Homo sapiens: one gene and its partners. The protein of the gene in region 1 interacts with the protein of each later gene in a pairwise test. Each region holds a gene or a part of one and is shown in the gene's direction. Other genes may lie near its edges. The genes, in order: FLNA, GABPB2, ITGB1BP2, ZNF664-RFLNA, SCAMP2, PHLDB2 and CRLF3.

The links.
Region 2: the proteins of FLNA (region 1) and GABPB2 interact in binary tests that used the Homo sapiens proteins (3 or more experiments, as listed by UniProt).
Region 3: the proteins of FLNA (region 1) and ITGB1BP2 interact in binary tests that used the Homo sapiens proteins (3 or more experiments, as listed by UniProt).
Region 4: the proteins of FLNA (region 1) and ZNF664-RFLNA interact in binary tests that used the Homo sapiens proteins (3 or more experiments, as listed by UniProt).
Region 5: the proteins of FLNA (region 1) and SCAMP2 interact in binary tests that used the Homo sapiens proteins (3 or more experiments, as listed by UniProt).
Region 6: the proteins of FLNA (region 1) and PHLDB2 interact in binary tests that used the Homo sapiens proteins (3 or more experiments, as listed by UniProt).
Region 7: the proteins of FLNA (region 1) and CRLF3 interact in binary tests that used the Homo sapiens proteins (3 or more experiments, as listed by UniProt).

What each region holds. Positions count from the first base shown.
Region 1 is NC_000023.11:154,371,835-154,375,787, reverse strand, and holds the start of FLNA (filamin-A), read left to right. Parts: upstream 1-1,153; 5' UTR 1,154-1,282; intron 1,283-3,953. UniProt on the Homo sapiens protein: Promotes orthogonal branching of actin filaments and links actin filaments to membrane glycoproteins. Anchors various transmembrane proteins to the actin cytoskeleton and serves as a scaffold for a wide range of cytoplasmic signaling proteins.
Region 2 is NC_000001.11:151,122,761-151,126,042, forward strand, and holds the end of GABPB2 (GA-binding protein subunit beta-2), read left to right. Parts: 3' UTR 1-1,426; coding exon of another isoform or gene 1,427-1,555; 3' UTR 1,556-2,782; downstream 2,783-3,282. UniProt on the Homo sapiens protein: May function as transcription factor capable of interacting with purine rich repeats (GA repeats).
Region 3 is NC_000023.11:71,300,369-71,304,549, forward strand, and holds the start of ITGB1BP2 (integrin beta-1-binding protein 2), read left to right. Parts: upstream 1-1,381; 5' UTR 1,382-1,438; coding exon 1,439-1,502; intron 1,503-1,768; coding exon 1,769-1,818; intron 1,819-1,908; coding exon 1,909-1,965; intron 1,966-2,042; coding exon 2,043-2,188; intron 2,189-2,893; coding exon 2,894-2,988; intron 2,989-3,092; coding exon 3,093-3,148; intron 3,149-3,258; coding exon 3,259-3,329; intron 3,330-3,443; coding exon 3,444-3,543; intron 3,544-3,818; coding exon 3,819-3,932; intron 3,933-4,173; coding exon 4,174-4,181. UniProt on the Homo sapiens protein: May play a role during maturation and/or organization of muscles cells.
Region 4 is NC_000012.12:123,979,715-123,983,214, forward strand, and holds part of ZNF664-RFLNA (refilin-A), read left to right. Parts: intron 1-3,500. UniProt on the Homo sapiens protein: Involved in the regulation of the perinuclear actin network and nuclear shape through interaction with filamins. Plays an essential role in actin cytoskeleton formation in developing cartilaginous cells.
Region 5 is NC_000015.10:74,849,366-74,852,865, reverse strand, and holds part of SCAMP2 (secretory carrier-associated membrane protein 2), read left to right. Parts: intron 1-679; coding exon 680-797; intron 798-1,384; coding exon 1,385-1,513; intron 1,514-2,192; coding exon 2,193-2,352; intron 2,353-3,500. UniProt on the Homo sapiens protein: Functions in post-Golgi recycling pathways. Acts as a recycling carrier to the cell surface.
Region 6 is NC_000003.12:111,886,765-111,890,264, forward strand, and holds part of PHLDB2 (pleckstrin homology-like domain family B member 2), read left to right. Parts: intron 1-3,500. UniProt on the Homo sapiens protein: Seems to be involved in the assembly of the postsynaptic apparatus. May play a role in acetyl-choline receptor (AChR) aggregation in the postsynaptic membrane.
Region 7 is NC_000017.11:30,790,193-30,793,692, reverse strand, and holds part of CRLF3 (cytokine receptor-like factor 3), read left to right. Parts: intron 1-20; coding exon 21-243; intron 244-862; exon of another isoform or gene 863-1,120; coding exon 1,121-1,253; exon of another isoform or gene 1,254-3,055; intron 3,056-3,500. UniProt on the Homo sapiens protein: May play a role in the negative regulation of cell cycle progression.

The sequences.
Region 1 (3,953 bases):
TTTCCCGCCTCAGCCTCCCGAGTAGCTGGGATTACAGGCGCCTGCCACTGCGCCCGGCTAGTTTTTATATTTTTAGTAGAGACGGGGTTTCACCATCTTGGCCAGGCTGTTCTTGAACTCCTGACCTCGTGATCCACCCACTTCGGCCTCCCAAAGTGCTGGGATTACAGGCATGAACCACCGCACCTGGCCTTTTTTTTTATGTTTAGTGACAGGGTTTCACTGTGTGACCCAGGCTGGAGTGTAGTGGTGAAATTATAGCTCACTGCAGCCTCAAACTCCCGGGCTTAAACGATCCTCCCATCTGTCTCCTGAGCAGCTGAGACTACCGGTGCACGTCACCACGCCCAGCTAATTTTTATATTTTTGGTAGAGATAGTGTCTTGCTGTGTTGCCCAGGTTGGTCTCAAACTCCCGGGCTCAATTAATCCACCTGCCTCAGCTTCCCACAGTGCTAGGATTATAGGCATGAGCCACCATGCCCGGCCAATGTTTTCTTTAAGATCAGAATCTTCTTAATACTAAACAAACTTAACTTTCTCGTCCCCCTGAGCGATCCTGTTTCTGCTGCCCACCCCAGGCCAGACCTGGCAGCGCCTGATCCATGGCAGTCAGGTTCATCCCAGGGCTCGGAGCCCTGCAGTCCCGTCCCGGGGCCCTGCCTGACGTAGGCGCCCAGCCAACACCTGCAACGACCTGTTGCCCCCACCCCAGGAAACAATCCCGGCTTGGGACAGACACCAGGGGCTGTGACTGTGGGTGGCTCCTTGGAGAAGGTGGCCTTGGGCCTCGGCCTTTCCACCTGGGGTGCGCTTGGCTCCCCCAGACTCAGACACGCAGGATCCTTGTGATTGGGCCTAGACACGAGCCCTGCAGTCCCTGTGGGCGCTGGAGGCGACTCCCCCACGAAGCCCTCCCTCCCCCAGGGCCTGGCGGCCCTCGCCGGCGGTGAGCTCATCTCGGGGGGCGGCGTCGCCCGGCGGCGGGTCGCTGGAGCTCACGGCGTGCCCCCGCACCCCCGCCCCCCACGCACCCGTCCCGGGCTCCTGGGCAATTTTACCAATTAAGGCTTTCTCGCCGGGCCGGGCCGGGCGCGGGGCGGGCGCGGGGCGGGGGTGCGGCCAACAAGAAGGCGGGCGGCGGCGGCCCATTCGCGTGGAGGCGCGTCGCGCGCAGCGGACGCCGACAGAATCCCCGAGGCGCCTGGCGCGGGCGCGGGCGCGAAGGCGATCCGGGCGCCACCCCGCGGTCATCGGTCACCGGTCGCTCTCAGGAACAGCAGGTGAGGTCTCCGCGGCCCGGCTTCGCGCCGTAGGGTCGCCGCGCTCCTCGTCGGCCGGGGGCGGGGTTGGAGAAGGCGGGCAGAGAGGCCGGAAAACGCAGGCGCCAGCTCGCGCCCAGGTCCGGGCCAGGTTCAGCTGGGATGCGTGAGCCGATGGAGGCTCCCCTGGCATCTGGGAGTGAGTGTCCAGAGAATAGCTTCCCTAGTTGACCCACGAGCCATGTCTGTGCCCACGAATGTGGGAGCCTGAGGCCATGGGGGGTCCCCGAGAGAGAGAGGGTGTCTGGGCACTTGCCCATGAACGGACCACTGCATGCCTGAGAGAGAAGGGCCCTGACACCAGGAACTTGTGTGGACTCAGGGCGAGTGGCCACCTGGAAGGACACTTCTCAGCCAGTGTGCCCACTGGGAGGGGGACAGCGTGTCCCTTGCTGGCTCGAGTCCACAGGGCACCAGCTGCTTTGGGCACAGGGGAGCTGGTTCTGGGGCTGCTCTACTCCATGGGGGCCATGGTGAGGATGAGACCAGGCCAGGTTCCTTGGTTGGGCCCTGGGCCCTATGCCAGGTTGGCTCTGAGTTGGATGCGCACTGCCAGCCAGGATATAACCAACAATGTCCCCAGATTCCCGTGCCACCTGGGGCCAGGCAAAATAGGTTAAAATCCACTGGCAGACCCATTTGTAAGTGCTCCGAGTGCACCGTCAAGGTGGGAGCTTGGGAATGGGCGACCTCACCTGCCGCACCTGGACTTGCCAGCACAGGTCTCTTCTCACCTTGCCAGTCTGCGGCTTCCTTCCCTCCTGCGCCCCCTGGCTACGCAGGCCTGGAAACAGCTCCTTAGGGATCCCAGCTGAACAGCTCCTGGGCTTGGGCTATACCTCCCAGTGGGAGGGTCTGGCCTGGGGTCTGAGGGCCAGGGGTGGTGTGGTGGGCGGGGTGTGCCTAACATCCAAGAATCTACTCCAAATAAGGGAAAATATGAAAGAGCTGGATTTTGGCTTCCCAGGACTGCCCGATCTGGTGGCTTTGGGATCGGGCGACATCTGGCGGTTGATACTATGTTCTAGGGACAAGAACCCTCTACACGCCCATTCCTTGTTTCCTCTAAATAGGGAAAAGCTAGGGCTGGAAGACACGGCACCCACCTCCTGACACTCTTTCTGCTGGAATTGACCACTGGTCACTCTGACTCAGTTTCCCTGAGCTCTGAAGATTAAGGAATGAACCCAGACAACCCAGCTCAATGGCCCTTAGTGGAGAGAGAGTCAATTATTGATGGAATTCCGTGCCTGGGAACTTGCTTTCCAGTGGGGCAGGGGGACCAGAAGGACAACTTCAAGCCCGTCTTGAATGGGGCCCGTGCAGGGAGGGGTCTGTATGGGTTCCCCCTTCCCAGCCCTCCCTCCCACCTCCACCCCAGCTCCCAGACGCCCAGGCGCACTTGGTGCAGGTGTGTCTCAAAGTGGTCAGGAGAGGGGACAATATACAGGGGTTGGCCTCAGTACTGGAAAATGCCATTTGCACCCCCTAACACCACTACTAGTGGGAAAAACCAGTGGGGCCACAGGCTGCCCCGAAGTGAATGTGCTGGGCGGATCACAGCCCCACCACGTGTCATGTAGACACCCAGGGCTACAGGAGAGTCAACCATATTTGGGCATGACGTGCTGGCCAACCCAGGGCCTCCATCTCTCACTGGTCTTTAGCAGATAAATTAATTATTACTAGAATTGAACAGGAGGGACAGATACCTGCCTTCCTAGAAAAAAAAAAAAAACACTCAGAGGAGGAAACATTCTGGAGAGGGGAGGTACCGAGGACTGAGAGGGAGGGGAGTGCACAATGGGGAGGAAGCCATAGGCAGGCTGGCTTCTGACTGAAGATAGTAGCAGTGAGCGTCCCCAGCCGTCCCCTGGTCCCAGTCTACATCTCGGCACAGCAGCCACTGCACCATCTCCAGAGTTATCTACCAGAAAATTTTGAGTGAAGAGCCCCCACAGCTCTGGGGACACAACCCCCCAGGCCCCTGATCCCTGTCCTCAGGCCTCCTCTGCACCTGCCACCACACCTGAAGCCCACCCAGACCCAGGTGCTCAGAGCCTGACAAGTCTTATGGGAACCTCTGAGCAGGCCCCTCTGGGTCTGGAATGCCACTCCCGTGTTTGCCCCCTGCCCTGGCCACGCTGGGCTGAGGGGACTTTCCGACAGGAGAGGACCCCCCGCTTCAGCTCCCCCCAGTGCCCCGGGTGAACTGGCATGAAGGGTTAGGCGGGCACACGTCTCTGCATGCATCGCACGGCGCCCTCTGCCCGCGCCCACTGGCGTGCCCGTGGGCATGCCCGGACCCCTTCGAAGGCTGCTTGCTCCTGGAGTGCCGGCGGCCTCCTGGCCCAGTGCCCCATATCCTCCCGGGTGGAGGGAAGCAGAGAGGGAGGCGGTGGGAAGCAGCGGGCACAGGTGCGCGGGCGAGGGCCCTACGGACTGGGAAGGCGGGCCCGTGGCAGGGGGTCTGCGGGGACCGCGTAGGCGCAGGCCTTGCCCTGCAGCCGCTTCCCAGGTGATGAGCACACAAAGCGCCCTCGGCAGTGCCTGGTCCGGGGCTGCCGCTCTCCAGGGGTTCGCTCTTAGGGTTGGCCCCTTCCCGCCGCTGCCGGGCCGGCGGACGGGGATG
Region 2 (3,282 bases), on another chromosome or scaffold:
CCAAAATCTCTAATACAGGCCAAGTCATTTTTTATGATGGGTCTCTGAGATAGGGCAGTTTGTTAGAGGAGAGGCTAGGGTAGAGAGGGAGAGAATGGAGGTATCTGAAAATAAGTAAGAAAAAGGCATTGATTTTTATTTACTCGGAACGGTCCTCTTGGCATCCCAGATAAGGGAAATAGGATTTGATCTCCAATTGTATTGCCATGGAGAGAATGGCAGGTGAGGATGCTTTGAAGTAGTTAGAAATTAAATATTGAATACATTAATGGCAATACCATTTCATGACTTTGCATATCTTTCTGGATTAGTCATGGAAGTTGGGGAAATATTGCTTAGATCTTCTGGGTTAGAGGATTCCAACTGTTTATTGGCAAGGTTGGATTATTAAGAATCAAATAGCAGACAAAAATGGCTGGGCACGGTGGCTCACGCCTGTAATCCCAGCACTTTGAGAGGCTGAGGTGGGTAGATCACTTGAGGTGAGGAGTTCGAGACCAGCCTGGCCGACATGGCAAAACCCTGTCTCTACCAAAATACAAAAATTAGTTGGGCATGATGGCATACGCCTGTAGTCCCAGCTACTCTGGAGGCTGAAACAGGAGAATTGCTTGAACCCAAAAGGTGGAGTTTACAGTGAGCTGAGATTGTGCCACTGCACTCCAGCCTGGGCAATAGAGCGAGACTCTGTCTCAAAAAAAAAAAAAAAAGAAGGAAAGAAAGAAAAAACAGACAAATGGATCAGAATTGGTGCTTGAGCAAGAGAAACTTCGAGCTTAGGATGGTTGTCTACTTTAAAATAAAGCTGCTGGCCGGGCACAGTGGCTCACGCCTGTAACCTCAGCACTTTGGGAGGCCAAGGCAGGTGGATCACGAGGTCAGGAGATTGAGACCATCCTGGCTAACACAGTGAAACCCTGGCCCTACTAAAAATACAAAAAATTAGCCGGGCGTGGTGGTGGGTGCCTGTAGTCCCAGCTACTCGGGAGGCTGAGGCAGGAGAATGACGTGAACCCAGGAGGCAGAGCTTGCAGTGAGCTGAGATCGCCCCACTGCAACAGATCGCCTGGGCAACAGAATGAGACTCGGTCTCAAAAAATAAAATAAAATAAAATAAAATAAAATAAGTAAAGCTGCTGGCCAGACATGGTGGCTCACGCCTGTAATCCCAGCACTTTGGGAGGCCGAGATGGGAGGATCACTTGAGGCCAGGCCAGCGTGGTGAAACTCAGTCTCTACTAAAAATACAAAAATTAGCCGGGGGTGGTGGCGCATCATCATACTGGTGAGAAAAAAAAAAAAAAAAAAGAGGCCGGGCGCGGTGGCTCACAAAAAAAAAAAAAAGAAAGAAAAAGGAAAAAAAGAAATATCAGTTTGAGAAATGATTTTTTTTTCTTTTTTCTTTTCTTTTTTTTTTTTTAAACAGAGTCTCTCTCTGTCACCCAGGCTGGAGCGCAGTGGCATGATCTTGGCTCATTGCAACCTCTGTCTCCCGGGTTCAAGCGATTCTTCTGCCTCAGCCTCTGAAGTAGCTGGGATTACAGGCACGCGCTAATTTTTGTATTTTTAGTACAGACGGGATTTCACCATATTGGCCAGGCTGGTCTCGAACTCCTGACCTCGTGATCCACCCTCCTTGGCCTCCCAAAGTGCTGGGATTACAGGTGTGAGCCACCACGCCCAGCCTCTTTTTTTTTTTTTTTTTCTCACCAGTATGATGATGACCATTTTAAGAAAGCTTGTGTGGCTCTCTCCTATCATTACAGACCTCCAGAGCTGGAAAATTTGATGCATTTACTGAACTCTTCCTGAAAGTTTAATATGGAGTGGGAATCAGTTTTTGTCCTAATTTATTAGAGAAGGCTTCCTCTTCTCTACTCCTTGTGCAAACCCATCTCTGGATAGCTAGAAAAGGAACTTCAGAATGGACTATATGTGATGACCACCTGTATGCACTCTAGGCTCTTATCTGTCTCTATTTTATGTGGTGACTATATCTCAGAAGTACTACCCCTTCTGAGTAGTACTATTATTTCCTATGCCAATTTTTTTTAAGTCTCTGATGCTGCCCTTTTTAAATTTTTGTCTTATTTTTTAGCCTCTTTAGTATTAGGGGGTGAGGTGACATTCCTAGACTCTACAGTAGCAGTTTGGCATGTTAGTGACAGGAAATTGTGATTCCCTATCTCCCCCTCCTCCTACCTTTTCTGCTTTTGTGATTCCATTGTTCCTATCTCATTGAGGCTTTCCCAGGCATTCGAATTTAGTTAGTAGGTCATTTCTAATCTCTGGGCCTTGTCTTTTCTCTCTCCGTTCCCCTCCTTCCCTACCACATATTTTTTGTTTATTCTGAGGTGGTTTGTTTCTGAAAGTTAATCTAGGTCACCTTCTATATCCTGTGCTTTCTAGTTGGCTTTAGACATCTTGTTCTAGCAACAATGATGGTAGCAGCTCTCTCCCTGACCTTGCCCCATGTGCTGTCCTTCTGTCAAGGCCATTTGTGTGTGTACTGCGGCAGGTGTGTGTGTGGGGGGATGCGCCCAGACTGTTCTCACAATGTCCTCAGTTTTTCAGGTTGTCTGACAGCTTTATGTACAGCGTATTTTTAGAAAAACTTAAATATACTTCTTTATTTAGGGTTTTATTCTGATGAGCAAGTTTGTGTGTATATGTGTGTATGAGCATTTGTATGTATATATACTTATACAGATCTATATTATATATACAGTTTTTGTACTATCATTTAAAATAAAAATGTTTCTCAATAAAATGTCAAAGCCGACCATTTCAGGGTGTCATTGAATTTGTTTTCATCTCCTGGGCAAAATTTGTATCTATTCTCTTTTTTTTTTTTTTTTTTGAGACGGAGTCTCGCTCTGTCGCCCAGGCTGGAGTGCAGTGGCGGGATCTCGGCTCACTGCAAGCTCCGCCTCCCGGGTTCACGCCATTCTCCTGCGTCAGCCTCCCAAGTAGCTGGGACTACAGGCGCCCGCCACTACGTCCGGCTAATTTTTTTGTATTTTTAGTAGAGACGGGGTTTCACCGTTTTAGCCGGGATGGTCTCGATCTCCTGACCTCGTGATCCGCCCGCCTCGGCCTCCCAAAGTGCTGGGATTACAGGCGTGAGCCACCGAGCCCGGCCAAATTTGTATCTATTCTCTAATGACAGGTGAACCACAGAGCTCATTTTCCCTGTCCAACTGAGCTAACTGAAGGGGGAGGGGTATAGATCTACTAACCCATGCATGGCCATTGCCTTTTCCTTATCCACCGCTCTCAGCC
Region 3 (4,181 bases), about 83 Mb from region 1:
TTAATCTTGATCATTCCGGTTTTTTTTTTTTTTGTCCATCTTGTTTCATTTGCTTGCCCCGCCCCCGAGACGGAGTCTTACTCTGTCGCCCAGGCTGGAGTGTAGTGGCATGATCTCGGCTCACTGCAATCTCTGCCTCCCGGGTTCAAGCTTGTCCAGGTTGATCTTGAACTCCTGACCTCGTGATCTACCCACCTCGGCCTCCCAAAATGCTGGGATTACAGGGGTGAGCCACCGTGCCCAACCTCACTTGCTTCTTATCCTTACACTCCCCCAGCCCCAGAGAAACTGCCACATACACCACAAAAACCAAACATCCCCCAATGACCTTAGCCCCATTGCTCCATTCACTCCCAGGTGAGAATTCAGGCAAACGTCCACAAAGGTCACAGGCAGCGTACATACGGTTCTGTTATACCCCATATATTACCCCTTCATGTCCTAAAGAAGACATTTTCTCTTAGAGATTTTCATTTTAGTGTATCTTTAAAAAAAAATCTTGTGTTAACTTGCCTCCATCTTTTTCTTGGGTGAGGACACCCAGGAATGACCCTTTTGTGTCTATGATGTTGCTGTTCACAGCTTTTCTTGATAGGCCTAGTACAATCTTGGGAACAGGGTTACTGTATACTGAAGGTCTGACAGTAGCTCTTAGACTCGCCTATCTTAGGTAGTCATGCTGTGCATTTTTTTTTTCATTGGTGTACTGTGTTTGATTTGTCTCATATATTTGGAGTTTTTCTGAAAAATGGAGCAGTAATGCAGCATCAACCTATTAAAATACATTTTAAGCCTTTTAATTTTCTGTGGTGTTTTTGAAGGGGAAAGGAGGGAGGGGAGTTATCTTAGGAGATGAGCAGTAGACTCTATAAAGGTAATCCTTTATGACCTTTGGATTACAGTATTGATCTAGACAAACATGGGGAGGAGGTGGGGATGAGGTGCATCAAATGGCTGGAGGGGTTGGCAAGGATTAGCGCTATTGATACTACATGGAAGTAATGATGGAGGAAAGCTGCCCCTCTGAAAGAGGAAGAAAATGGGCTTAATCCTCATCGAGCTGGGGGCGCGGGGGGGGTCTCAAAATTGGTATTTGTTTCTTAGCAGCTGCTGCTGTGTCCAAGGCTTGGAATTGCTGTGGTGAATCTAAAACTGTCTCAGTAGTGGTGAGCTGACCTCACCCAAGTTCAAAGCCCTACTCTGCCTGATCCTTTTTTCCTGAGCCTCAGAGCTAAAATGCCCCCGAGCTCTTTCCTATTGGCTGGAAAGACGAATTGAAGTTCCCTTGCCCATGTTAGGAGGTGTACGCCTCCTGAACTAAAGATAGAAACAGCTGGCCCTTCCAGGCAGCTAAAAGCCTCCAGACTAAGAGGTGTTCCCCATTCGGCAGCCAGACTCCTTGAAATACCCTTTCAGTAATCATTCAACCAACGCTTCCATGTCTCTACTCTGTCGTAACAAAGGCTGTGGGCAGCACTTTGACCCTAATACCAACCTTCCTGGTGAGTAAAGAATCCTGACCTGGCCAGGGGCTCTGTGTGGGTGTTGGGGACTGGTCAGCTGGGGGGCAGTGTGTTTGAGGAGCGGGGAAAGAAACTACCTGCCCTAGTTTAATTGGTCTGAGTGATCTTACAGCCTTTGCTGGCTTTTTTTTTTTTCTTCACATTATATGGGAAGAAACCATAAATAGAAACCCGGGGAAGAGGTGAAAAATGATACTTGGTATAGTTATCTTCCCTTCCTTGATAACTTCTACTGATGTCCACAGATTCCTGTTGCCATCACCCTGGGGTCCCAATCTTCCATGATGCACTTAAGGTGAGGAGTAGGTGAGGGGGGTTAGCAAGAGCATTTCCCAGAAGAGATAATACCCAGGAAGCTAAGCTGATCTGGGTCTCTTGTTATCAGGGTTGGTCCTGCTGCCGAAAGCGAACTGTAGATTTCTCTGAGTTCTTAAACATCAAGGTAAATTATTTATGTACTTGGATTCTGCCCCCAATAGAAGGATTCTATCCCTAATCCTATCTCCTTATCTATACTAGGGCTGTACTATGGGACCACACTGTGCTGAGAAGCTTCCTGAGGCCCCTCAACCTGAAGGCCCTGCTACAAGCAGTTCACTTCAGGAGCAAAAACCTCTGAATGTGATTCCAAAGTCAGCAGAGACCTTGCGCCGGGAGAGGCCCAAGTAAAGAGGAGGAGGCCCCTGGACTTTTCTTATTTTCATGTAGCTTCCTAGGAGTGATTAATGGGTCATTGAGGACTGGGAACTAGGGACCAGGGATGTGAGGAGGGCCAGATGTCAGGGTTTGGATGGTGTATATCCTGTGCCTTAGGGGAAATTTGTGTCTGGAAATAACGCCCTTTCCTCTAAGGTGGTGTGGGATGATGGGATAGATACCTGAATCAACAGAGTAGATAGCCCCTCACAAATACATCCTTAGTGTATAACACAAAAGGGATTGTTGAGAATGACTTCTCTTTCTAGAAAAGAACTTTAAGATAAATCTCATATCAAGAAAAGGATGTATTGTATTATTGGCAGCCAGGAGACTTCCCAAATTTTGTGGGAATAATAAGAGCAACAGAAGGAAGTCATATTAGGTCCACGATTAGATAAAGAGGAAGAGGATATGACTCAGTTCTGCAGAGAAAAGTGGTTAGGTTTAGAGCAACTGAGTAGATGGGTAAGAGAAGTGCTGGGGATTTCTCTAGGGTTCAGGTATTTGGGATGTCCACAGAGATGAAAATTGGCAATGGGGTTGCTACCCAACCTCTCCAACTCTGCCTCACTTTCACCAGGCTTCTTTAATTCCATTACCATCGGTGGGAGTGTTGGAGCTAGCAATCATAGCTAATGGGTCAGAACTAAATCACCACCCTTAACCCCTAGGTCAGAGTTGCCTCTGAAGCTGCTGCCGCTAAATATATCCCAAGCCCTGGAAATGGCATTGGAACAGAAGGAATTAGACCAGGAACCTGGGGCAGGTAGGTGGGTCTTTAGTAGGATCAACTTCATAGACTGGAATTTAGTGGAAGTGGCAATTGAGTGGGGGGATGGATAAGTTCCTGACTCTGTTTCCCTTGCCCAGGACTTGACAGTCTGATCCGGACTGGTTCCAGCTGCCAGAACCCAGGATGTGATGCTGTGAGTGAGAGTTTTGAGGGGCTCAAGCATATGGCTGAGGGATGACTGGGTATAGATAGGCTGAGTAGGATATACCTTAGAATGACCTGGTTCTACTTTATCCTTCTTAGGTTTACCAAGGCCCTGAGAGTGATGCTACTCCATGTACCTACCACCCAGGAGCACCCCGATTCCATGAGGGGTGAGGGAGGGGACTGGGTGGGCTATGAGGCTATGAGACAGGTTTCTCCTAATATTTGGTCATAAGATAATATTGGGGGTGAGAGAATTCAGTTGAATTATCTTCCTACTTCAGGATGAAGTCTTGGAGCTGTTGTGGCATCCAGACCCTGGATTTTGGGGCATTCTTGGCACAACCAGGGTGCAGAGTCGGTAGACATGACTGGGGGAAGCAGGTAAGCCCCAGCTTTCCTGAACTCTTGATTAGAACCCAATCTCAGAGGTAAATTCTCCTCCCTCTCTGTACCACATAGCCAAGCTCCCTGTCTTCTCCCTTTAGTATAGACCAAATAAGATTCTGCTCCTTATCCCTCAACAGCCCAGAGGTTTTGCAATATGAGGTTGTGTTAATCTTTTTGAGACTCTCTGTCTCTTCTCCACGTGCATCATGAGAACTCCCCTTCAGTTAAGAATTTATTCTTACCACCTGCATTTCACATCTTCTCTTTAGCTCCCAGCATCTTGCCGCCATGATTGGCACCAGACAGATTCCTTAGTAGTGGTGACTGTATATGGCCAGATTCCACTTCCTGCGTTTAACTGGGTGAAGGCCAGTCAAACTGAGGTGAGCAATGATCTGATGTTGGATGGGAGGATAGTCAATTGGGTGATACTACAATCTCACAGGCAGAGTTGCCATTTGCTGTTAACCTGTAGGCTCCATAGTACCCTTAGAGGAAAGGAGAGTTATTAGGTCAGGGCTGTCTGGCCAACCTGTGGATCATACCTCTGACCTGGTTATCTGTCGTAATGACCTATTCTGACCTTCTGGGTTTGTTACTACCCCTGTAATTCTTTTCTCTCAGCTTCATGT
Region 4 (3,500 bases), on another chromosome or scaffold:
GTTGCCTAGGCTGGAGTGCAGTGGTACGGAATGTGGTTCAGTGTAGCCTCAGCCTCCTGGGCTCAAGTGATCTGCCTCAGCCTCTCAAGTAGCTGGGACCACACACACACACACACACCACTACACCTGGCTGATTTTTAAATTTTTTTTGTAGAGACGGAGTCTCACCACGTTACCCAGGCCAGTCTTGAACTCCTGGCCTCAAGTGATCCTCCCGCCTTGGCCTCCCAAAGTGTTGGGATTACAGGCATGAGCCACCATGTCTAGCCTATTAGTTTTTTATATAGAGAGGTAGATTTGTATGTACTGACATAGCCTGTATGGATGTCTAGAATATACTGTTGAGCCAAAAAAGCAAGCTTAATCTCATTTTTTGTAAGATACAAAACAAAATAATGAAGGGTGAGTGTGTGTATATATATATATTCTGAATAAGAATTAGAAAAAGACTAGAATACCTGAAAACATTTAATTCTGATTACTTCATGGGAAAAGCCTAGGGGAGACTGGTTTTTCATATCACATGTGTTTGCATTGCTTCAGTTTTTTTTACAATGGGCATTTACTTTTGTAAGGAAGATGTTACAATTTCTCACCAATTTCATGAAGGTCTAGATTTAGACAAAAATATACAGTGCCTAGTACCTAAAAGGATGTGGTAAAAATGACACACTCTTATGTTACATTGGCCATATGTGTCAAGAGTCTTAAAATTATTTACATTTCTTGATGGTCTAGGAACCATCAAAAGAATATTTTTAAATACAGAGAAAAGCTTTCTGCACAAAATATGTATATTGTAGAATTATATTTATGGGCACAGTTTGCAGAATGGTTATGATACATCCCCTATATCATATATTTAGTGGCAAATAACATTGCCATTAAAAACGTTTATGAAGAAAATATATTAAAATGCTTATGATAGTGTTAAGTGGAAGGAAATCAGGATACACAATTGTATACCTGATATGATGAAAACGCCCCAAAAAAAGTCCCAGCAGCCTTCCAGTAAAACCTATGAATGGCAAAAATATGTAGAAGAAATTAGATGGAAATCTTAAGAATTGTGGAATTCGGTAGGATGTCGGGTGATTTAAATAATCTTTTTTGTATTTGCCAAGATTACATGTACCTGTATTACATGTATGATGGAACATTTGATTTAACAAAGTATATCTGGGACATGATAGCTACATGGCAAATAGACATGAGCACTTTTTTTTTTGGTTAAAGCCAATGAATAAATTTGGAATTTACACTGAAAATGATTGGGACCCATTGAAAACTTGTGAGTAGGGTAAGAACAATCCATTTTGCATTTTAGAAGGTTACATTAGAGTAGATAATGGATTAGAGGGAAGCAAGACTGGAGGCTTTTGTAGAATTCCAGGGAAGATGATGGTGGCTTGAGTTAAGTTGAGACAATGCAGGTACACAGTGGAGAGTTTCCAGAGGTATTTGGAAGAGAGTGGCTAGACCTTTGTGATGGGGGGAAGTCAATGATATTGACTTGGGCAATTGAGGGGAGAGTGGACTCATTTACTATAGTTGGGAATTGGCTATGGTTTGAATATTTGTCCCCTCCAAAACTCATGTTGAAACTTAATCCCCAATGTGACAGTGTTGAGAGGTGGGGCCTTTCAGAGGTTTGGCTCATGAGGGCAGAGCCATTCATAGATTAATGGGTTGTCATGGGAGGGGACCTGGGGGCTTTATAAAAAGAAAAGAGATCTGAGACAGCATGTTAACATGCTCAGCCCCCTCTCATCGTGTGATGCCCTGTGCCGGCTCAGGGCTCTTTGGAGAGTCCCCACCAGCAGGAGAGCTGTCACCAGATGTGGTCCTGGGCTTTTTCAGCCTCCATAACTGTAAGAGATAAATTTCTTCATAAATTATCCAGTTTCAGGTATTCTCTTGTAAGCAATAGAAAACAGATTAAGACAGGAATATAGTAGGCTTTGGTGAGGAAGTGACTGATTCAGTTTTGGATGTACTTGAGTTTGAAGGTCTTATAGGACACATAGGTGTGTCACGAAGAGGATTTACAAAGAATAATTTTACAGTACACATGTTTTGCTGTAAGAATGACTAGATACTATACATAGCTATGGTATTAAAATCAATATTTCTACATGGTAAATTTTTCTTGCAATATAGTTGTACTTCTGTAAATTGGGGCATATCTGTCTAGATAGACTGGACCATTGATATTTTTCACATAGAATTATTTGAGACTGCATGACCTCGACTTCAGATAATACCATGATTGTCTTTGGGGTTCATTGGGTAGACTCTTGCCTCTCTGAGTGGGTGGTGGAGGTTCCTCTGGGCATTAGTGGTCCTTTTGTCAGTCATCCTGTTGTCAGAGTACACCTGACTTCTGGGAGTGATTTCTCTTCATCTTGGTAAACTGGTCCCTTCCACGTAGGGGCAGGCCAGGAAATAGGCAGAGTGGTGCCCTTTCATCCATGTGTGAGTGCCCACCTGGCTGTTAATAGTATGGCTGGAGCATGGGTACCTTGAAGGACAAGTGGAGAAAAGGTAGCGGAGAAAGTGCCTGCCAAGGTAACAGAAGTCATTAGAGAGGAAGGTAGATGTCTTCATCAGAGGTTGGGGCCCAGTCGCTGGGAAGTTGGTGGCAGTCAGTGTGGCTGTGCTCTTTGCCTTCATCTCCCAGGCTTCTCCTGCTCACTGTGTGTCTGCCCTATGCTTCTATGTGTGCCTGCCCTCCCCCTAATCTCTTCTCTCGCTTGGCAGTAAATAACACGTGACCCCAGGTGGTCACTCTGGAAGGCCATTCTGAAACTCTAACTTCTGCCAGCTCACATCACAGACCCAGTCTTTCCACTTCCCACTTCCCAATTCCAAATTCTCTAGAAGGACAATCTGATTGGCTTAGCTTGGGTTCCACGCTCACCGTATCGGTTTTACTGTTGCAGCGCTTACAGGAGCAGATTCATTTAGTGTGAGCCTGGTGGACTGGCTAGAAGGGAGTGCAGACGAGGACACTCAGGAGAGACGTCCTGGAAGTTAGAAAGTTTCAAGAATGGACAGGAGCAGTAGTTTCAAACGGCCTAGAGATGTAATAAAGGGATCAGGAGTGAATCTTAGATTTAGCAAATTGAAGTCTTTCAGCCCAGGTTGAAAGTTGTGTCTACTGGGCATGGTGGCTCATGCCTGTAATCCCAGCACTTTGAGGGGCCAAGGCAGGCAGATGGCTTGAGGCTGGGAGTTTGAGACCAGCCTGGGCAACATGGCAAAACCCCGTCTCTACCAAAAATACAAAAATTAGCCAGGCATGGTGGCACACACCTGTGGTTCCAGCTACTTAAGAGGCTGAGGTGGGAGCATCACTGGAAGGCAGGGCTGTAGTGAGCCATGATCACGCCACTGTACTCCAGCCTGGGTGACAGAGCGAGACCCTGTCTCAAAAAAATAAAAAAAGAAAGCAAGCAAGTTGTGCTACAGCTAATCCATGTGGGAGAGTCACAAGGTGG
Region 5 (3,500 bases), on another chromosome or scaffold:
ACTCAGAGGCTCTACCCCGCCTGGAGAGGAGATAAGTGTGGACTCTGCATGCCACTAAAGCCAGGCAGGGCAGGGCCACACCTAAGGGGCTGTCCTGGGGTGTAGCCAATTGCAGTTTAGGGGGACCTCAGGAGGCAGCTCCTGGGGGCAGGCCATGGGGCAGGGTGCTTGTACAGATCCTGAGGCTCAGGCACACGCCATCTGCCTTCACGTGTCTCCCCTTTCCACTCACTGTTAGCAGGCTTGCACTGTTTTCCTTCTCACACATCCACCAGGCTCTTCAAATGAGGCTTGGGTCTGTGGGTTTCTTATTATAGTTTAGTTTCTTGTGAGGTCTTTTTCCCAAAGGTCACAATCACTGAGCGCTGCCTTGACCCAGTATGGGGAAGAGGTGGAGAAGCCAATGGGGGTAGTTTTCCCAACTCAAGCTTAGGGATGAGGGGAGAGGACAGCTTAGTCATGGCCAAGGGGTCAGGAAGGTGTGGGGGCAGTGGAAGACAGGTTGGCCTCTCTAAGGTGGTCTCTGGTACCTAAGACACTCTGTGGGGCGGGGACTGCTTCTGGGACTCCTTGATGGCTGTCCCTGCCTGGGGCAAGGCCTCTCTGCCTGCCTACCCAGGCTGACACTGTTTCTGTTTGTTGTGTCTGGCTGTCCCTGTACCTCCCCTGTTCTCTCCAGGCCGTGGTGTCTGCAGCCCAGGCAGGCCTGCTCCGGCAGCAGGAAGAACTGGACAGGAAAGCTGCCGAGCTGGAACGCAAGGAGCGGGAGCTGCAGAACACTGTAGCCAACTTGCATGGTAAGGGAGGCTGCTGGGGCCTGGGGCTGCCCTGCCTGGCATAGAAGAGTGTCCTGAAACCTGTGCGGAGGGCCTCCCAGCATTCACCCTGAGCTGCCTTAGAGTTTTGTGGGGCTCTTCTCATCACAGGATGCTGGTCCTGGGAAGAGCAGTAAGTTGCAAGTCAGGAGACCTGCAGTGTAGTTGTAATGGCTGTAGATTACTTCTGCACTCCTTCCTAGCTCTCAAATTCCTTGATTCTTTGATAGCATAGGGGCTTTGGTCCCACAATTCCTTGCTAATGATGATGAACTGAGTTCTCACACTTATGGGCTGCTTGTTAATAAAAATAATCACTTAGGCCATTTAGCTGTCTGTATTTCCCAGTGCATTTGGGGTCTTTTATCTCCATGTGAGCTTGTTGGTATCTCTTTGGGTTCCATTATCCTGTTCTGTCCCACTCCATGCTCCATGCAGACTCCAAGCCCCGCTTGCTGGAGCCCCTCTGGGAACCCTGGTTTGGCCCATACACTATGCTGGCGTGCATGCACCTTGATGCCCCTTCTGAGGCTGGGCCCTTACCTCGTCACTCTTTTTGCCCTACCCAGTGAGACAGAACAACTGGCCCCCTCTGCCCTCGTGGTGCCCTGTGAAGCCCTGCTTCTATCAGGATTTCTCCACAGAGATCCCTGCCGACTACCAGCGGATATGCAAGATGCTCTACTATCTGTGGATGTGTGAGTCCCACTCCTGCCTTCCAAGCGCAAGGGCGAATTGGGTGTGACTTGAGAGCCCCATCTTGGTCCTGGCTGCTCCTCCCTGGTATACAGGCTTTCAGCAGACTCCAGCCTTCCTCAGTGCCTGGGCTGGGTTGGGGAGATGCCTCTGCCCACAGGCTGCCCCCTGTCTGGAAACCTCCTTGAAAGGGGCAGTCCAGACCACCGATCAGGGAGGGTGGGACTAACTAGAGGCTTCCAAGTTCCTTCAGAGCTCACTGCACTAAAAGGCCCTCCTTAGGTGAAGGCCTTCCCTGCCCACAGGCCTGTGAACTCTGAGGGGTGAGGAAGGAGACTCCCCCTGCAGCTCCATCAGGGGCCATCCAGGGCCAGGGAAAAGCATTGCTAAGAGAAAGACTTCCTTCCCCAAGGACCAGCCCTGGGTCTGCATCCTCCCTCCACACCCCTCAGATACCCGGGCTGTCCCATCACCTCTCAGGAACGTAGTTTGATCCCTGGTTTTGAGGTCCCAGAAAACCAGGATATGGGAACTATCCCTGCCTAGGTACAGAGCGGGCTCCTCTGTTTCAGCAGCTGCCTTCGCAGCATGAACCTCACCTCTCCTAGGGAGTGGCTGCCACATTGGAGCCCCTCAGCCACTGTGGCACAAGTCATAACTCTGTCCTGTCCCCTTCCCCAGTGCATTCAGTGACTCTGTTTCTGAACCTGCTTGCCTGCCTGGCCTGGTTCTCGGGCAACAGCTCCAAGGGAGTGGACTTTGGCCTCTCCATCCTGTGGTTTCTGATCTTCACTCCCTGTGCCTTCCTTTGTTGGTACCGACCCATCTATAAGGCCTTTAGGTGAGTGAGGCCGGGGCAAGGGGTGAGACTTTATGGCTGGCATCCCAGGTAGCAGGCTAAGGGCTATAGGCCCTGGGACCCCATCTGAGTCTTAGAGCAGAATAGAATGTAGGGAAATCCACTTTCCCTACATTCTGTTCCTCTGTTCCCACCCAGAGCAGAGATTGGGGGCCCCGTTCCTCAGTTTCTGTACCTGAGGTCTGCTCTGGGCCCTGTCCTTGGACCAGGCACAGGAGACCTAGAGAAGGGACCTCCCATCCCACTGCTCCCAGTCTGGCTGATGCCGTTACTGGGAAGAGGGAGGGGACGCTCTTTGGGAACTCCCTTCTGAGGCTCTAAGGTGTGCTTCTCTGGTAGTATCAGATGAGTGCTCTCCAGGGCTCTTTCTCCATGACTATTGATGCTTCCCAATAAAGACTGCCAACACCTAAGCTAGATACTGGGAACATAGCTGGATACACCTTACAGACCCCCAGGGGTTCTGGAATTGTACCTCAGGGTTTATGCTTTCAGGGCTGGGAGCCCAGCAGGCCCTGGGAAGAGGGATTAGGGTAGTGGCTGAACCATCCCTGTACCACTGGAGGCCCTGAACCCTCACTGTGATCTAGCCCTCAAGGACACAGAGATGGAAGTCCTCAGCTCGTGAGAGAGTTTTGTCTGGTGTCCCCTGTTTCCCAAATATTTTTTTCTTCCAGTCAGATGTACAGGTTTTGTTTTTTTCTCATTGTTCTTTGTTACCACGTATCCTCAAGTTCTATTGTTTTTGTTTTGAGAGGGAGTCTCGCTCTGTCACCCAGGCTGGAGTGCAATGATGCGATCTCGGCTCACTGCAACCTCCTCCTCCTGGGTTCAAATGATTCTCCTGCCTCAGCCTCCGGAGTAGCTGGGCTTACAGGCACACACAATCACACCTGGCTAATTTTTGTATTTTTAGTAGCGATGGGGTTTCCCCATGTTGGCCAGGCTGGTCTTGAACTTGTGACCTCAAGTGATCCACCTGTCTCGGCCTCCCAAAGTGCTGGGATTACGAGTGTGAACCACCGTGCCCAGCCTGTTTTGTTTTTTTGAGACAGAATCTCAGTCTGTTACCCAGGCTGGAGTGCAATGGCGCAGTCTCGGCTCACTGCAACCTCCGCCTCCCAGGTTCA
Region 6 (3,500 bases), on another chromosome or scaffold:
AGTACTCAGTATGACTTTCCTCTTTATTACCATAAATAATCTCTGCAGACTGTTCATGGTCACAAAATGGCATTGTGTTTGGGCTTGCTTCATTGACAGAAATTCAGAAGATGTTTTAATTAGCATACAAAAGTCTTGTATATGGACAGCAAATAGAATGCTATACCATGCAGAGCAACTATTATTTATAAAGCCAGAATATTAACTTCTATCCGATAACTTATCAAGAAATCTGGGAGAGCATTTTTAATGGCTTCCATTACTCCGGACATCTTCCTTAAATGCTTCTATTTGCTCTTCTGTTCCAAGGATAGGGAACCAAATTCAAGAAATTCATCTCTGCTAGGTTTCATGTTCAGCATCTCTAAGTGTTGGTGAATTTCTCTTTCCTCCAGATTTTCCAAATCTGGTATGGTTCTTGGCAATCCAGGAAGTGACCTTCTGTACTGCCTGTAAGGTTGGGCCTGTTAAGTCATAAACAGTTTTGACTTCTTGGGAGAGCTTTGTGGATATTGCTCTAAATATGAAGTTATATATTTTTTCTTTAATAGTGGGCGTATCGTATTTGTTGAAATGAGGCTTATTTTTAAATTTGACACTCTAGACTTGATCTTGGTTGCATGGTCTATTTGTTTGACTACATTGTGGTAAAAGGGATGACGGATTCTTATCAAGCCTATGCAAAAGATGATATTGCCATTAAAAAGTAAAGTGACTCAAATTACTTCCTGAATTCTGAGAGATCAGTGAGAACAATTTACCATTAAAATAATATTTCATTTAGTTTGCAAAATCAGAGTTAGCTGAATAGAGGATTAGAGATAGAGCAGTATGAATGCCAAAGGGTTTTCCCCCTGAAAAAATAAAACATTAAAAATAATACTAGTAATATTCCAAAACATATATCCACATTTAGAAATTCATTTTTTATTATCAATTCAATCACTTCTATGTAATTAATTCTTATTCCTCTGTATCTTAGGCTCTTAATTTGGTTTCATGAAGTCATCTATTTCTAGACTAAAAAGTCCTGAAAATCTGATGTGGCTGCCTAGTACTATCTCATTTTTGTCTATGCAATTCTTTGAAATATTTAGGGTTAAGAATACCTGGTAAAGTTCTGTCCACAAGGTTCTAAAACTGTCTTTTCTTCATTAATGAGATATTGTATTTTGTAGACAAGCTCACAGAGAAAGTAGAGAACACTTGGTGAATGTAAGAGTTAAGTGGCTATGGTTATTTATGGTTAATTTAACAAACAATATCAGCATGAAGGAGAGTTAAAATCCTTTAAATCAGTTTTTTAAGAACATATTACAGAGAGTGAGGGCACTGACATATATTCAGGGTCTTTGTGTAAAGTACCCAATCTTTGAACATTACCTATAATATTAAAAATATTATTTTACCCGTACAAAATTATCTTAAGGAAGGGCAACTTTCTCATTTGATTTGAGAAATTTTTAGGGGCACAGTGAACAAACCTAATTATTTCTAGCCTCTTTCTTTTTGTAAAATTAAAGACAAATCTTTGTGATTGCCCAGAGGTTCTCTGGGAAAACCTAAAAGTAGTTCAGGAATAGATATCTTGGAAATTATATTTTTTTTCTGTATTTAGGGTCTGCCTGATCTTGAAGGCAAAATCAGAGATTTTGTCACTTGAGTAATAAAGAATTGTGTATACCTGAGAGTAGTGAATGTTTGTGGTTTGGCTATTTAAGAAAATGGCAATAGATTATTTTATGATGAGCAAGAAAGCTCAAATCATTCAAAAATGAAGAAAACTCTTTGCAAGAATATATTCCAATCATCGCAAAGCTCAGGAAGTTACACTTGTAAGGTACTAATCTCTGTTCTGTGGGCAGATTAGTACTGCCTTTTACAAGCATAGGCTGATTTCTCCAAGATCAGTCTGTCATTTCAATAGAGATAACTGCATTTTAGTTTTACATTAACAGGGTGCTTGTCATATATTACATTTTTAATGCATTACATTAAACATACTTTATGAATAATTGCATCAAAATCATGCAAACTTTGCCAAATTTTTAAAATTTTATTACTTCTTTATAGCCTTTTTATTTGCAAGCATTATAAACCAAGTTAAATCTAACTCCCTTTTTGCAAATCTGCAATTTTCTGTTTCCATCAACTTCTGCCCTTCATTGTTCTCTTCCACATTCTGGAACAACCAGACACTAAGACAAAAATACTTAAAGGTATCAGAAATTATGTTCAAGCTAACACATCACAGAACATAATTACTGATAATGTGAAAAGGTTTGTCACAGTTATAGTTCAGTTTAGATGAGCACAAAGTTTATATTTTTCTTAATTTTATAGAAGTAATCTTAGCTTATGTTTTTAGCAAACTAATATAAGACAGTTTAAAAGTTCAGGTAAACTAATCTCTTCATCATAAAACATTCAAGTTTTTTTAAAAAATGAGATTATACTTGTATTATACTGTACACTGATGAAACAAGGAAAAGATGTGTAGCTGTTTTGTTGTTGTTTTTAAAATGTATTTTTTTCTTAAAAGTTGTATTTACCCATGACACAGCCCCAGGAGATCCTGACAACATGTGTCCCTATAGCTGTTTTTAAAACCAAATTATCAAATCAGGTCTTTTTTTTTTTAAGAGAGCACAGTTAGGCTGGGTGAGGTGGCTTACACTTGTAATCCCAGCACTTTGGGAGGCCAAGGTGGGAGGATCACTTGAGTCCAGGAATTTGAGACCAGCCCGGGCAACATGGCAAAACCCTGTCTCTACAAAAAATACAAAAATTAGCTGGGTGTGGTGGTGCACACCTGTAGTCCCAGCTACTTGGGAGGCTGAGGTGGCAGTATTGATTGAGCTCAGGAGATTGAGGCTGCAATGAGCCATGATCATGCCACTGAACTCCAGCCCAGGTGGCAGAGTGAGACCCCATCATTAAAATAAGCACATTTAAAGCATTGGAATTTCACAAAATTTATTTCAAGAAAATAAATTCTTGAAATTCTGGGAATGTTAAATTTATCTAACTACTTGATAATCTCTATAAACCAATCAGAACAGTAGGCCTTCTCTGTTTAATTTATTATTATCCTCGGGAGTTAGAAAAATACTTCACCTACAAACAGTGTTCCCCACCCTGCCCCCAGGTAGAAAGACAGATGAAAGGTTTATGGCTTAAGTCCTACAGCTCCAATTACAGATCAAAAGTGAACACTAGAACACAAAATCTCACTTTTCCAGATCTCAAAAGACTGATTGCTTTTCCATCAGGCACAAAATATATTCCTGATCTGAGTACACAAATAGAAAAACAAATTATAAACAACAACAACAACAAACAAATACTCTGTCACCTCTCACCTGACCAAGACTGGATTCCGATTCTACCTGTCAACTCACCACGTGGTCAGATCGTGAAACCAGATTCCTAGTCATGGCTGCCACCAATGGAGATAACTGTCAGTTGTATGCAAACCAAAACCCCAGTGAAACTTGGCC
Region 7 (3,500 bases), on another chromosome or scaffold:
CATAAAGCTTTTCTCCCTAGGTGGATGATGACTTTACAGCCCAAGATTACAGGCTCCAGTTTCGTAAATGTACTTCAAATCATTTTGAGGATGTATATGTAGGTTCTGAAACTGAATTCATAGTATTGCACATAGACCCCAACGTTGATTACCAGTTCAGAGTCTGCGCCCGAGGAGATGGCCGACAGGAGTGGAGTCCTTGGAGTGTCCCCCAGATAGGTCATTCCACATTGGTGCCTCATGGTATGCTGCTAACCTTTTCTCTCCTGAAGCCTAACTATATATTAGAATACCTGTATTCTGTGCTAAGGGCAGCACACTGACAACCAGCTATTCTAAGCATAGATCCTGAATTGATAAGAACAACATGCACCATGTCTTTTACTCAGATTACCTCATGTGATTTTTGTTTTCATCAGTTCTTCAGAGTCCAAAAAAAATGCTGGACAAGATTTTTAGCCTCATTGAAAACCAAAGATTGAAAATATTATGTAGGGCACTGATATTCCTTTTTATTCTTTTTTTTATATTTGAATGTTATTTAGTTAGTTTTTTTGAGACAAGGTCTCACTCTGTCGCCCAGGCTGGTGTGTGGTGGTGCAATCATGCAGCCTGACCTCTAGATCCTTCTGCCTCAGTCTCCCAAGTAGCTGGGACCACCTGCATGCACACCACACCTGGCTAATTTTTTATTTTTTTCTAGAGACTGGGTCTTGCTATGTTGCCCAGGCTGGTCTCAAATTCCTGGGCTCAAGCAATCCTCTTGCCTCGGCCTCCCAAAGTGCTGGGATTACAGGCGTGAGCCACCGCGCCTGGCCTATTAATTAGATTTTTATCAGGTTGGAATAAGTTCAAGCAATTATGCTTGTACAATGATTTTATTAGATAAGAGATAACACTTGTGTGATTTATTATGTCAAAATTATGCAGGAATATACTAAAATCTTTTGTAATTTGTGGGACTGATCATGATACCCTGTTAATGGAATCTTTTATTTTATTGAACTTGACCATGGCCCCTAAGAGTAGTCTCCCATTTCCATGTTTTATTTAACGTGTCTGTATTGAAGATATCCCTCAAGAGATTCTAACAGTTTTCAATATCTTTGCTTTGAAAAAGAGTGGACAGCTGGTTTTGAGGGGTACAGTCTGAGCAGTCGAAGAAATATAGCACTTCGGAACGATTCTGAATCATCGGGTGTTCTCTACTCCAGAGCTCCGACTTATTTCTGTGGGCAGACATTAACATTCAGGCAAGTAGATATTAAAACATCTCACCTGCCTCAGGAAGCAGAGTGAAGTGCATAGAGCATACATAAGCTTTGAATTCAAAACATCCTGAGTTTATTCCGTCATTTATAGGCAGTGTTACTGTGGGAAGGCTTCTTTATTTCCTGTAGCTGTAGTTTTCTCATCTGTATTCACAGGGTTATTACGTAGATTAACTGGGAAATGTATATAAAATGCTTGTTATTTAATATGTTTATATCTCTTTTCCTCTTGGTAAGTAGAGGTAAGTAGAGTATCTCTCAAAAGTCAATCTTAGGCTGGGCATAGTGGTTCACACCTGTAACCCCAGCACTTTGGTAGGCCGAGGCAGGTGGATCACCTGAGGTCGGGAGTTCGAGACCAACCTGAGCAACATGGAGAAACCCCATCTCTACTAAAAATACAAAATCAGCCGGGCATGGTGGCACATATGCCTGCAATCCCAGCTACTTGGGAGGCTGAGGCAGGAGAATTGCTTGAACCCAAGAGGCAGAGGTTGCAGTGAGCTGAGATCATGCCATTGCACTCCAGCCTGGGCAACAAGAGCGAAACTGTGTCTCAAACACACACACAAAATTAAAAAGTAAATCTTAAAAATTTAGAGGCCTGGCCAGGCACGGTGGCTCACACTTGTAATCCCAGCACTTTGGGAGGCTGAGGCGGGCGGATCACGAGGTCAGGAGATTGAGAACATCCTGGCTAACATGGTGAAACCCCATCTCTACTATAAATAAAAAAATTAGCCGGACATGGTGGTGGGTGTCTGTGGTCCCAGCTACTCGGGAGGCTGAGGCAGGAGAATGGCGTGAACCCGGGAGGCGGAGCTTGCAGTGAGCCGAGATCACGCCACTGCACTCCAGCCTGGGCGACACAGCAAGACTCCGTTTCAAAAAAAAAAAAAATTTTAGAGGCCAAGAGACTGGACGCAGTGGCTCACACTTGTAATCCCAGCACTTTGGGAGGCCGAGGCGGTTGGATCACTTGTGGTCAGGAGTTCGAGACCAGCCTGGTCAACCTGGTAAAACCCCATCTTTACTAAAAATACAAATATTAGGACAGGCGCAATGGCTCCCGCCTGTAATCCCAGCACTTCGGGAGGCTGAGGTGGGTGGATCACAAGGTTAGGAGATCAAGACACCACCCTGGCCAACATGGTGAAACCCCATCTTTACTAAAAATACAAAAATTAGCTGGATGTGGTAGTGCACACCTGTAATCCCAGCAACTAGGGAGAGTGAGGCAGGAGAATCACTTGAACCCGGGAGGCAAATGTTGCAGTGAGCCATTGCACTTCAGCCTGGCAACAGGGCAAGACCCGTCTCAAAAAGAAAAAAAAAATTAGCAGGGTGTGGTGGCACACACCTATAATCCCAGCCACTCAGGAGGCTGAGGCATGAGAATTGCTTGAGCCTGGGAGGCAGAGGTTACAGTGAGCTGAGATCGCGCCACTGTACTCCAGCCTGGGTGACTGAGCGAGACTCCGTCTCAAAAAAAAGAAAAAAAGCATAGGCCGGGCACTGTGGCTCATGCATATTATCCCAGCACTTTGGGAGGCCGAGGTGGGCAGATCACGAGGTCAGGAGATCGAGACCATCCTGGCCAACATAGTGAAACCTCGTCTCTACTAAAAATACTAAAAATTAGCTGGGTGTGGTGAGGTGCGCCTGTAGTCCCAGCTACTCGGGAGGCTGAAGCAGGAGAATCACTGGAAGCCTGGAGGCGGAGGTTGCAGTGAGCAGAGATCGTGCCACTGCACTCCAGCCTGGGAGACAGTGCAAGATTCCGTCTGGAAAAAAAAAAAAAAAAAAAAAAAAAAAGCAAAAAAATTTACTGGCCAAGAATTTGTTTTGTCCTTTGTGAATCATTAACAGCAAGTCTTTGTAAGAGACAACACTGTAAACATATTATGTATATGCTACTCTCTAAAGTAAAACTGAAAGCAAGCCTCCCCTACCACTAATTAATGTTGTTTCTCTACCCATTTCTTTCTGTAATGGAAAAGTTTCTTTTTTCTTGTTTTCATGTTATCTGAGATGTATTCTTTATAGTCATGTTTCTGAATAGCTCTTCGTAGAAACTAAAGACCAGTTTTGACTTAGAGAAGTAAAGTTTGCCTGATTTTCACCATACTCACCTTAGTGTAACAAGCTCTCCTCTAAGTTTTAAGTCTTGAGATGGGATTTTATTGTGAATGCTTGACCCAAGTTCCTTTTGTTCTCAGGCCCTTATTA